2 separate regions of the Homo sapiens genome follow, and region 1 is linked to region 2. The links come from fine-mapping of genetic effects on gene expression. A gene starts in region 2. The other region holds a variant in brackets. All regions are shown on one strand. Distances are from middle to middle. Region 1 has its middle 8.6 kb from the start of DUSP23. Region 2 holds the start of FCRL6 (Fc receptor like 6).

What was found. PIP is the estimated chance that this variant, and not a neighbour inherited with it, causes the effect. A credible set is the group of variants that fine-mapping cannot tell apart.
Region 1: its variant is the best candidate, but not a certain one, in a credible set for the expression of FCRL6 in subcutaneous fat (GTEx, PIP 0.83).

What each region holds. Positions count from the first base shown.
Region 1 is chr1:159,769,682-159,775,065 of GRCh38, reverse strand. No RefSeq gene overlaps it. Among named protein-coding and RNA genes, the nearest start is that of DUSP23, 8.6 kb to the left of the region's middle. The variant T/C (reference allele first, on the strand shown) is at 2,517.
Region 2 is chr1:159,799,490-159,804,873 of GRCh38, reverse strand. It overlaps FCRL6 (Fc receptor like 6), which reads right to left and starts at 2,514. Exons shown (of 10, transcript NM_001004310.3): 1 at 2,419-2,514. The coding sequence starts at 2,449. It overlaps LOC105371464 (a long non-coding RNA gene), which reads left to right. Exons shown (of 3, transcript XR_922195.2): 1 at 1-2,336; 2 at 2,727-2,926; 3 at 4,312-4,393.

The DNA of each region.
Region 1 (5,384 bases), 30 kb after region 2:
ACCTTTAGACCAGTGCTTCTCAAGGTGTGATCCACAGTTGATGTCACATGGGAGCCTGTGATAGATGCGGAATCTCAGGCCCCCCGACCTGTGAGATCCTCAGGTGGCTCATAAGCACACCTATGACTAAGAAGCCCTGGTGTAAGACTTGTTTGTCCTGCAGCTCTGTTTTTCCTTTGGTCATCGGCAGCATCCAGAAAGTGGTCTGGTCACAGAGGTAGTGAGTTGATCTCCAGGTGTCTCTTCTCTGGAGCTGAGAAGTTTTAGCTGAGCAGGGATATGGGTGGAGGAGCTGATCAGCAGAGGGAGAGGCCTCAAAGGGGCCTAACTGGCCTGGGTGAAAACTTGAGGTCAATTAGAACCACCTAAGAATCCTGGATTAGAACAACACATTGGCTTTATCTACGGGTTAGAAAGATGTCCAAGAAAAACAGGCTTAATGTACATGTACCTTTCCTGTTTTTTGTTCCAAGGAAGGGCTTGGTTTCCAGATTTCCTTTCTAGAGGAATGCTTGAAACATTGCTTCCTACTCTACCTACCTTTACGTTAGTTTCCAGGCAAGGCAAAAAGTGCCCCAGTCATTATCCTCCAATTTAAATGTCTCTAGCCTCCCTGTAGCTTAGGGGAAAGAAGGCACCATGGACAACCTTTTTTCACACAAGCCCTCCTTTCCCCTCTGTAGCAGACCTTCTTCCCACCCAAATCCCATCCCCCAAAACCTCCTTAGGACCCATCATCTCTGTGGATCCCTGGACTGGCCTCCTGTATTCCGGCCTCTACACATTTCCCCTCTGTGAACCTGCAGAGACTTTTACAGAGCATGGATGTTACTTTTCCAGTTCTTCAATAACTCCTTATTGTCTTCAAGAACAAACCCCCAAGATTTATAGACTGGTATATCAAGCCCTCCAGGATGAGGCCTCTTGCTTTTTCCTTCAGCCTCACCTTACCTCATTCCTCTGCAGAAGTGTTTGTCTTGTCACAATGAACAATGTGTAGTCAGTCAGAGGAGCAGAGCTCTCCTATGTGCCTGTGCCCATGCTGTGCCTTTTTCCTGCCCTGCTCTTACCTTTGGCCTGCAGCAACATCTCAACTTCCTTAAGTTTCACTTTGGGAAAAGAGACCACTTTCTCTAGGAAGCTTTCCCTGCTCCAATTCATGTTTTGTGTCCCTCTTCTGAGCTTCTGCAGCATGTGTATTAGAATATTTATGACATTATATATTAAACACATATTAAAGCTTTTATTGCTATATTATAATATGTTTATTGTAAAAGCATTAAAACACATACACATGCAAAATGTTAAAAATCATCACCTATTACCTATTTATATTAGTTGGTGTTTGATTAGGAAAGGAGAAGCCATTCTATGCTCTCCTAGTATGAAAGGAAGCAATATGAGAAATTCAAGGTTTACATACCTGGCAGGTGGGCTGAGTAGCAAAGGTACCAGATGATCTGAGCTGGTAACATCTAAATGAGATTCTCTTTAAGATCTTGCCTGGAAGCAATTCCACTGTAAGTCTCAGGAACTTCCGGGAAATTCCCACCAATGATCTCAGACTCCAGCACTCATGTGGGGGGATCCCAAGAAATTCACCTGGACGCTGTTTTCAGCCTCTCATCTGCCTCTGCACTTACCTATCTCTGGCAAACGATGGTCTCTCTTTTCGTTCCAGATCTTACACAGGTGCCTCTCATTGGCACTCAAGATCTATGGGAAGGATTTTGGAAATGTTGCTCCCAGGATCTCCTCTCTGGTGCAGAGAGCTTAGTCATGAATGGCATTCATATTAAGTTTACGAGGAACAAGTCACCTAAAGATAACCACATTTTGGTGTACCACCTTTCACGTGTATTTGTGTGTGTGTATAATGCACATATAAAACTCTCTTTTTAGTGTGCTCTATGTCTATATACATGTCTCCCCTCTGGCTCCTTCGAGGTTTAATGAGCTCTCTTCTCTACTTTGTAGAGTAGGATTCCCAGCACTGGTTTGATGACACCCTGGAGTGTCTTCATTTATCTCAGGGGGTGACTTGAAATTCACAAAACAAGATTAATTTAAATTCATTTTCATTTAAAAAAGTAAACAGACATTATATAGTAATTACAGGTACAAGTGTGTGTGTTGAAATCAAACTAATAAATGCTTGCCTTACAGAGAAATTAAGAGGATGGGGGTGGGGTTGGAAGGGACTACAAAGGTGGTTTAGTCTGAATCTTTCCTAAAACATTTCTCCCCACCAATGACTTCCAGGTTGGTGTTTCCCCAAAGTAATCATGTTTCTCAAATTGGAAGTCTGGGCTGTTGGGAATGAAAGCTCCCAGTATGTGGGTCTATCTTCTGTGTATACTATGAGCCTGACATACAGTACACCCTCAGGAAACACATTTGGATTGACTGTGTGTAAGGGTGGGACATGGTGGTGGTGACTAGGGAGGGCACGTGGCACATGAGAGTTCAAGCTTTGTGGGGTTGGAGGCCATGACATATCAGCACAGATAGTGGCC[T/C]GGGTAGAAATCCCATTTGGATTCTAGGATAATATAGTCTCCCCAACAATCAAGGAGACAATCTAGGCTGAGATGTCATTGATAATTGCCTTTCTATTAACAATTTGTGCAAAGCATCAGAAAGTCAGATAGGTCAACTAACATCGAAGCCTGTGAGTATCAGTGACTTCCTACTGAGGATACAGTCCCAAGGACACAGATGTAGGAAAAAATTCTGAATTCTGCTTGAGCCCAGCGTCTTTGAAGCAATAGAGTTGGTGGTGGGTTCAAATCCTGGCTCTGCCATTTGAAACTATTTAACCCCGAATAAATTGCTTTACACCTCAGTGCCCTTCTCTATAAAGTAGAAATAAATCATAATGCCTACCTCAGAGAATTGTGACGATTAAATGAGTTAATACTATAAAGTGCTTTGAACAATGCTTGGCACAGTGAGGGATCAATAAACACTGGCTATTGTTATCATCAGCATCACAATAGGCTGCACATACTTATCAGGACCAATTGGTAGCAGGAGTTTCAAATAGAGAATGCATTACTGGCCCCATCTGGTCCCAAAAAATAGGTTCAGGAACCCCTCCTGTCCCCTACGTTGGGGTAGGAACATCATTTGCTAGAACTGGAAACTTAGGCAGAGGGGTAGTTGTATTACAAGCAAGCAAATAGACAAAACAGAACAGAACAAAATAAAAAAACCACCACATGCAAATTGAGTTCTCAGTGAATCCCCTTGTTACACTTTGATGGGATATTCTGCTTCATGGGAAAAAATAGTGCAAACATACCTGGATTCTTAGACTCAAAATTGGTAGCAAGGGAAGAATGTGTCCTTTAGTGCAGAGTTTTATGGTCTATCAATCCTTGAAAGGAAGATATCATTAATCATTAGTCAGTTTCAAAATGTGCTCATCATTATCCACTACTGTTGATGAAAAACCTCAACCTCTTCTGGAGAAAATGACTGTTAGGAAAAGAACCTTTGAGGCCATTAAAACACAGCCATGATTCTCTTTATTTTAGTGAAAAACTAAATATACCTATATCCTCAGATGGGAAAGACAAATCAAGTCTAGCGTCTAATCTTAGCAAAATTCAAATACTGGGTTTGAAATGCCAGTAATTCTATTTAATTCTTTTTCTCTTGTGCAAATACGGAGGAATCTACATTGTGTGATTATTCAGATGTTCAAACAGTTATTTAGGATGAGAAAATTTGCAAATTCACATGGAATTTATTTCTGGAATAGCTATGACCATAACAGAGACAAGGTTGATGAGTCAGTCATTTATTTGAAAATTATGATACCCTAAATCCCTTTGGTCAGAAAACATATTTGATTCACAAGAATATGGAAAAATGGTGAGAAAATGTTTTTTAATGGTTAGCTTTGCTCTATAGTCTTTTGGCTTTCCAAAACTATAATAGTTTCAGCCTTTCTGGTCCTTGTGTTTCTAAAACTTTCTACCTCTTTAATTCAATTAAACAAACATGCCAATTAAGTCCAAGTGAACAAAATATTGGGCTATATACTTGACTAAAGATGCAGATAAAAGCATGAAACTTACATTTTGGTTTTGGAGCAGATTGTTATAGCAATGACCTGAATGGATTACACCTCCTAGTATCCACACCCTTATACATGCCTCTCCTACATTTGTACTGGACTCAGCCTTGTACTTGCTTTGGCTAACGTGATATAAACAAATGTGGGCCAGACGCGGTGGCTCATGCCTGTAATTTCAGCACTTTGGGAGGCCAAGGCAGGTGGATCACTTGAGATCAGGAGTTTGAGACTAGCCTGACCAACATGGTGAAACCCCATCTCTACTAAAAATACAAAATTAGCCGGGCGTGATGGCACATGCCTGTAATCCCAGCTACTTGGGAGGCTGAGGCAGGAGAATTGCTTGAAACCGGGAGGCAGAGGTTGCAGTGAGCCAAGACTGTACCACTGCTCTCCAGCCTGGGCAACAAGAGTGAAACTCCATCTCAAAAAATAAAATAAAATAAAATAAAATAAAATAAAATAAAATAAAATAAAATAAAATGAAATAAAATAAAACAAATGTGATAGAAGCAGAGGTATGATAAGCACTTGCATGTTGGGTCTTGTCATCTTGGAACCCTAAGACCTTTATGCTATAAAGAAGCCCTGAATTATATACCGTATGGTAGGAGAGGCCAGTTGAGCCCAGTCCCCAAGCTGGATGCAGCTGCATGAATGATCCTAGGTATGACCAGTAGAAGAGTGACCCAGCTAACTCACAGAATCATGAGAAATAGAAATTGCTGTTAAGCCACTAAATTTTGGGGTCATTTACTTCATAGGAATGGAAAACTGATCTATATCTATATCTATATCTATCTCTCTCTATATATGTGTGTGTGTATATATATATATATATATGGTCATTTACTTCATAGGAATGGAAAACTGATTTTATATATATATATATATATATATATATATATATATATATATATATATATATATATATTTTTTTTTTTTTTTTTTTTTTTTGAGATGGAGTCTTGCTGTGGCCCAGGCTGAGATAGTGGCGCGATCCCAGCTCACTGCAACCTCCACTCTCCAGATTCAAGTGATTATCCGATTATCCTGCCTCAGCCTCCTGAGTAGCTGGGATTACAGGCGTCTGCCACCATGACTGGCTAATTTTTGTATTTTTATTAGAGACAGGGTTTTGTCATGTTGGCCAGGCTGGTCTCGAACTCCTGATCTCAGGTGATCCGCCTGCCTCGGCCTCCCAAAGTTCTGGGATTACAGTCGTGAGCCAACGTGCCCGGCCAGATATAAAAATTTATACCCAGAAATGGTATGTTGCTGTAACAAAAAGCTAAACTATGTG
Region 2 (5,384 bases):
TGACAGAGACCTTACTCTGTAGTTATGTCTTCCTTCCCTTCCCCACCTCACTGGAAAACAATTGTGCAGCTACAAAGTGCTAAACAAACAGGGTTGAGACTACTGAAGCCAAAAACAAGACAGAAGGCACTCAGGAAGCATAGATGCACTTAAAATGAGCTCCTGTCCCCAAATCTCAATGACTTGCTCCCCATGGTACTGCAAGATCTTGGAGGTGGGATTACAAAATTGGTTTCTGCAATCAAAACAGCAGCCAACTGGGAACATACACAGGGGGTGACACCTGCTTACAGCAGTTCCTGCAATGAGGGCCCAGGGACCTCCATTAGCTATAGGCTGAAGATGAGGTGACAGTATCATGAAGTGGCCAAGAGCTATGGTCAAACCAAGTTGCGTAATAGAATTCCGAAAAATGAAGGCAGGAGCCCCTGCCAACTCTAGGAGCAGGATAATTTCCTCTTAAAGTTTCTGAGGGATCGGGAGATATTTATCTGGGAAAGATGCAACAGAGGAAAGACACAAAATACTTGGTGGGCTAAGCTTAAAAGAAGGGGGAGACTTATTCTGAGTTACTTTATAGGACAGAAATGGAAACTAGAGGGATCATGGAGGCAGATTTCGGCTCAACATGAAGAACTCTCTCACCACTGAGCTCTAGCACTGTGGAACAGGCTGCAGTGCCAAGCTGCAGCAGTCACATTGCTGGGAGGGCTGTATGGGACCCCATGACACCTCCTATGGACGCTGTGTGAGAATGCGGGGAGCAGCCTCCAGTGGTAGGAGGGAAGTTGGCTAATGTTCAGCTCAGAAGAAAATTAAGCCTAATTTCCCAAACTTTAAATACATATTTCACATTCAGCCAGGTCCCCACATGCTCAATGTCAGGATTCCTTTCCTCCCGGAGCCCTGACAGCCAATAATAGTAATAGCCACCAATTTATTATGACCACACCCTGCTCTTGAGAGAGGAAATAGCAGCTCTACACTTATGGTAAGATAAATGTTGCTACACACCCAGCCCCAGTGTCTGTGTTTTAGGCTGTTTTTCCAGGGTCCCTGAGCATCAAGTGGGACCAAATTTGCTGGTGCTGGATTCTCCATTACACTGTGCACCAGTCAGCCGGTCACTGATTCCCTTCCTCTCCTCATTTGCTGTCTGTCATCCTCGTCCTGGGTTCCAAGCTGGAACACTCTCAGACTGTATCTAGACAAGTCCAAGGGCTGTTCCTTTTACAAGGTAGTGCCGGTAGTGCCATTTGCCCCTGGGAGTCTTCTGCCTGGAGTATATCCAGGCATTAGGCTATCCTGTCCCCGCCTCAGTGTGAGCATTAGACCTTTTCATTTGTCCAAATGGCCATTCATAGAACACACGAGTAGCATGCTATGCTGGAGAAGGAACATTGAGTGGAAGGGGCATTTTCCTCACAGGGTCAAATTCTCACAAACTCTGTCCAGGAAGAGGTTATATTTAGGAACAGTTTTGCTTTTCTAGTTCAAGGAATACAAATAGCAAGCAAGCTATTGGGACCAAGAATTAAACAAAAAGTAGGTCCACTTGGAAACTGTAAAGTGAAACAAAATATATGCCAAATTATTTCTTTTAGGTATAAGGGGGGTGACACTGGCTGAGACTGAGCTGGGTCTGGGGGAGCCCAGTGACCCTCTGCGTGCAATCCTCTACCCTTAGACCAGCTCTCTTAGTTACAAGTAGCCTGCATGAGAAGAAATGGAGAGAAGAGAGAGAGAGACATGGATCAGACAATGGAGTTGATTCTTCAAACCAGCCCCATGGATCTGAAACAGCTCCCAACAGAGAGAAGATGTAGGCGGAAGAGAGACAGTCAATTTGAAAAGGGCTTTGGTTACTCAGAGCACAGGCCTTTCAACCAGGTGAGAGGTCTGGCCATTGTTACCTGGTTCTAAGAAAATGCTGAGGCTCCATAAAAATATGTCACCCTGTAAAATTCCACCTCCCATTGCTGAGCAAAATGCCTGGGACTGTTTCCCCTCATTTCCCTGACTCCTTCCCTGTTGCCCCCAGCAGCCTCCTTCCCTCCTGCAACCTCCATTTCCTTTTGAGACAGCTCTGATTAGTATTTTAACCTGATGTCACAAGGTAGAAATGTCATTGGGAAGTTAGGGGACTTTGTAATGTGATTTTCTGCCTCCCTAATTTATCTCTGACATATCAAAGGGCTGCGCTGCCAAGGACCCAGGACTACGGGGTAGGAAACACTGAGGAGTTTCTCCTACCCCAGTGCCCATCTCTCCCAAGCATGCCCAGGTGCACACACCTGTCTTGAGCTCCAGCCACAAACCCACTGGAATTGGGAAAGGTAAGATGAGGAACTTGGTGTCTCAGGGATGACTTACGGTCCTTAGTGCTCCAAGAGGGGATGCCCATGCTCGTTGACTTACCAAAGAGCAGCACAGCCGTCCAGAGCAGCATGGGGCCTGTTCTGGCACAGCGGAGGGAACACAGGTCAGAAACAGGTCAGGGCGAAGCCGGCAGAGAGCAACCAGGCCTCAGGACCGAAGGTGGGTGGGTGGCCTGAGCTGGGTGGTGCTATAGCTTGATAGCCAAAATAGGAAGTGGAAAAGAAACTTACAAAGCTCTAATTGATATTTCCTCTTTGGTTGAAGAAGTATTACATGAATAAATTTTCCTGAACACTAAGTATGAAGGAGTCGGTAAATCACTAATAAATCCCTGACATTTTCTGCAGCTTCAACAAGCCTATGCCAGGGAACTAGGATGGAACATGGTTATGGGACACCTCCATTAGAAAGGTCCAGAGACTGCCCGAATTTGCTTGGCTTCAGCGTCATTCAGCCTGGGAGACAGCGCAGCACTGTAAAACTAAGATCATCTACCCCTTGACCACCGAGTGACCTCCCAGCTTCCAAGGAGCTCCTGTCTCCAGAGGTAAATGTGTGTGGATGCTGCAATGCGATGGAGAAGTGGAGCCCTGAGGATGCTTCACAGGATCCTCAGTTCAGGAGGGAATCAGACATCGATGAGTCTGGAGTAGAACACAGATGGAGCTTCGGCATCTGAGGCTTTTAAGACTGTCAGTATGATTTTGAGAACTATTCCTTAAAAGACACCATTAAGAGAAGGAACAGGCAAGCTGTGGTGTGATGAGATAGTTTAAATACATGTAGCTGACAAAGGGCCCACAGAAGAAATATAAGAATTTCTGCAAGTCAGTAAGAAAAGGACAGACAACATACTAGAAAAATGGGCAAAAATAATTGGATAGGTACTTCACAGAAGCAGATATCCACGTGTCAAATCAACATAGCAAAAGGAGCTAGACATCATAAATCACCGTGGAAATGCAAATTTAAACCATAATAAGATACCACTACACCTTCCATAAGAATAAGGGAGTGATACCAGCTGAGACTGAGCTGGGTCTGGGGGAGCCCGTGACCCTCCCCATGCAATCCTCTACTGAGTATTGGTGAGGATGTGAAGAAACTAGAACTCTTGTACACCACTAGTGGGAATATAAATTGGTACAGTCACTAGAAAATGGCTTGGCAGAATCTACCAAAACTAAACACAGGGATCCCTGATGGCTCAGCATTTTCACTCCTGGGTAAATGTCAAACAGAAATGTATACATATAAGCCTGAAAAAACATATACAAGAGTGCTCATAGCAGCATCATTTGTAATAGATAAAAACTGGAAATTATTCAATGTTCCCTCAACAGAAAAAGAGGTCACACATTCTCATCTCCTCTGTGGACAGAACATGGGAGTTCACGGTGAAACACAGAGTCAGGCAAAATACTAGGAAGCATTTTCATTTTCTTGTTTCTTTTCTTTCTTTTTTCTTTTTTTTATTGAGAAGGAGTCTTGCTCTGTTGCCCAGGCTGGAGTGTAATCTTGGCTCACTGCAACCTCCGCCTCCCAGGTTCAAGTGATTTTCCTGCCTCAGCCTCCCATGTAGCTGGGATTACAGGCATGCACCACCATGCCTGGCTAAGCATTTTCTGACAGTAAAGTTCTTCCTGGAAATCTTTAAGTGAGAAGTTCTACATAGTCTGATGGAATTTGATGTGCCTATTGCTGAGGCCAGGAATGGACAGAGAGAATTTTCTAAGTTTTCTTGCCCTAGATTGTCTGACTCAGTGGAAGTGGGAAACTAATTTGACACTGCCAGGCATTTTTTTCGGTGACTCAGTTGTTTAGGAAAGAGGGAAAAGTAGTGAGGAAGTAAAGTAGGAAGTAGAAATCTTGTCCACTCACCTAAAGATGGCAACATTCATATATTTTCCTCTATCGTTCTCTTTCCAACAGATCTCCTGAGTTGTCTTCAACTTCGTTCAGCTGCAGGTCCTGTGGGTGTGTGGAGTCCCTGCAGGGCAGCAGCTGGGGCAGGAGACAGAGGGGATAACCGCAAGTGGTCTAGCTTGCAAACATTTGTGGTTTGCACACAGAACGGATGAAGCCTCTGCCCTGGCAACTTCTACCGGGTTCTAGCGGCATGAGAGTGTGAACTGCATCTGACTTTTCGCACTTCCCCTGCAGAGTGAGATGCTGTTGCACCTTCAAAGGTGTTGGTGAGCTGAGCCTGAGCTGAGCTGGCTGCATGTTGTTCCCTTGGGGATGAAGGTGACCCTCAGGGAACAGCAACAGGGCTGCTGCCCAGGTTTGGAATCTTCCAGGACTCAGGCTGACCTTGAACTGAGAATGGGATGGGTTAGTGGAGATATTAAAACCCATGATACTAACACTAATACTCTAAGGGAATTCAGGGGCTAAAAGGAGGTGGGATGAAAATAGAGTGTGGATCCTCATCCAGAAGAGGCTCCAGGCCCAGGTGCTCTCATCACTCAAAGAGTCAGTTGTCAGGGCGGCAGTAGTCAGGGACAATGGCCTTTGGGGAACAGGATAAGTCATTCCAGTTCCGGAGGCGAGACGGGAGAGCAAGAGAGCTTGGGGTAGGGGACAGCTCTGCATGGTAGGCCCTAGAGCCAAATATCTGAGCTTGAATCCTCACTCTGGATATGAATCTGGTGAGAGACCTTGGGTAAGTTTTTTAACCAGTCTGTGTCTCAGGGTCCTTATCTCTAAAGTGGATACATAATTACACCTGCATCATAGGGTTGCTATGAAGGTTAAACAAGATTAAAAACATAAGATGCTCTCAGACAGCAAGATCTAATAGAACTTTCAGTGATGATGAAATGTTTTCTGGGCTATCCAGTTCAGTGGCCACAGAGAGCTATTAAGCACTTGAAATTGACTCATGACACAGAGAAACTGAAGTTTTAATTGTTTTTACTTTAGTTGAAATTTAAAAAATTTAAGCAGCTACATGTGACAAGTGTCTGCCTTCTTGGATATTGCAGGCTTAGACCAATGCCTAG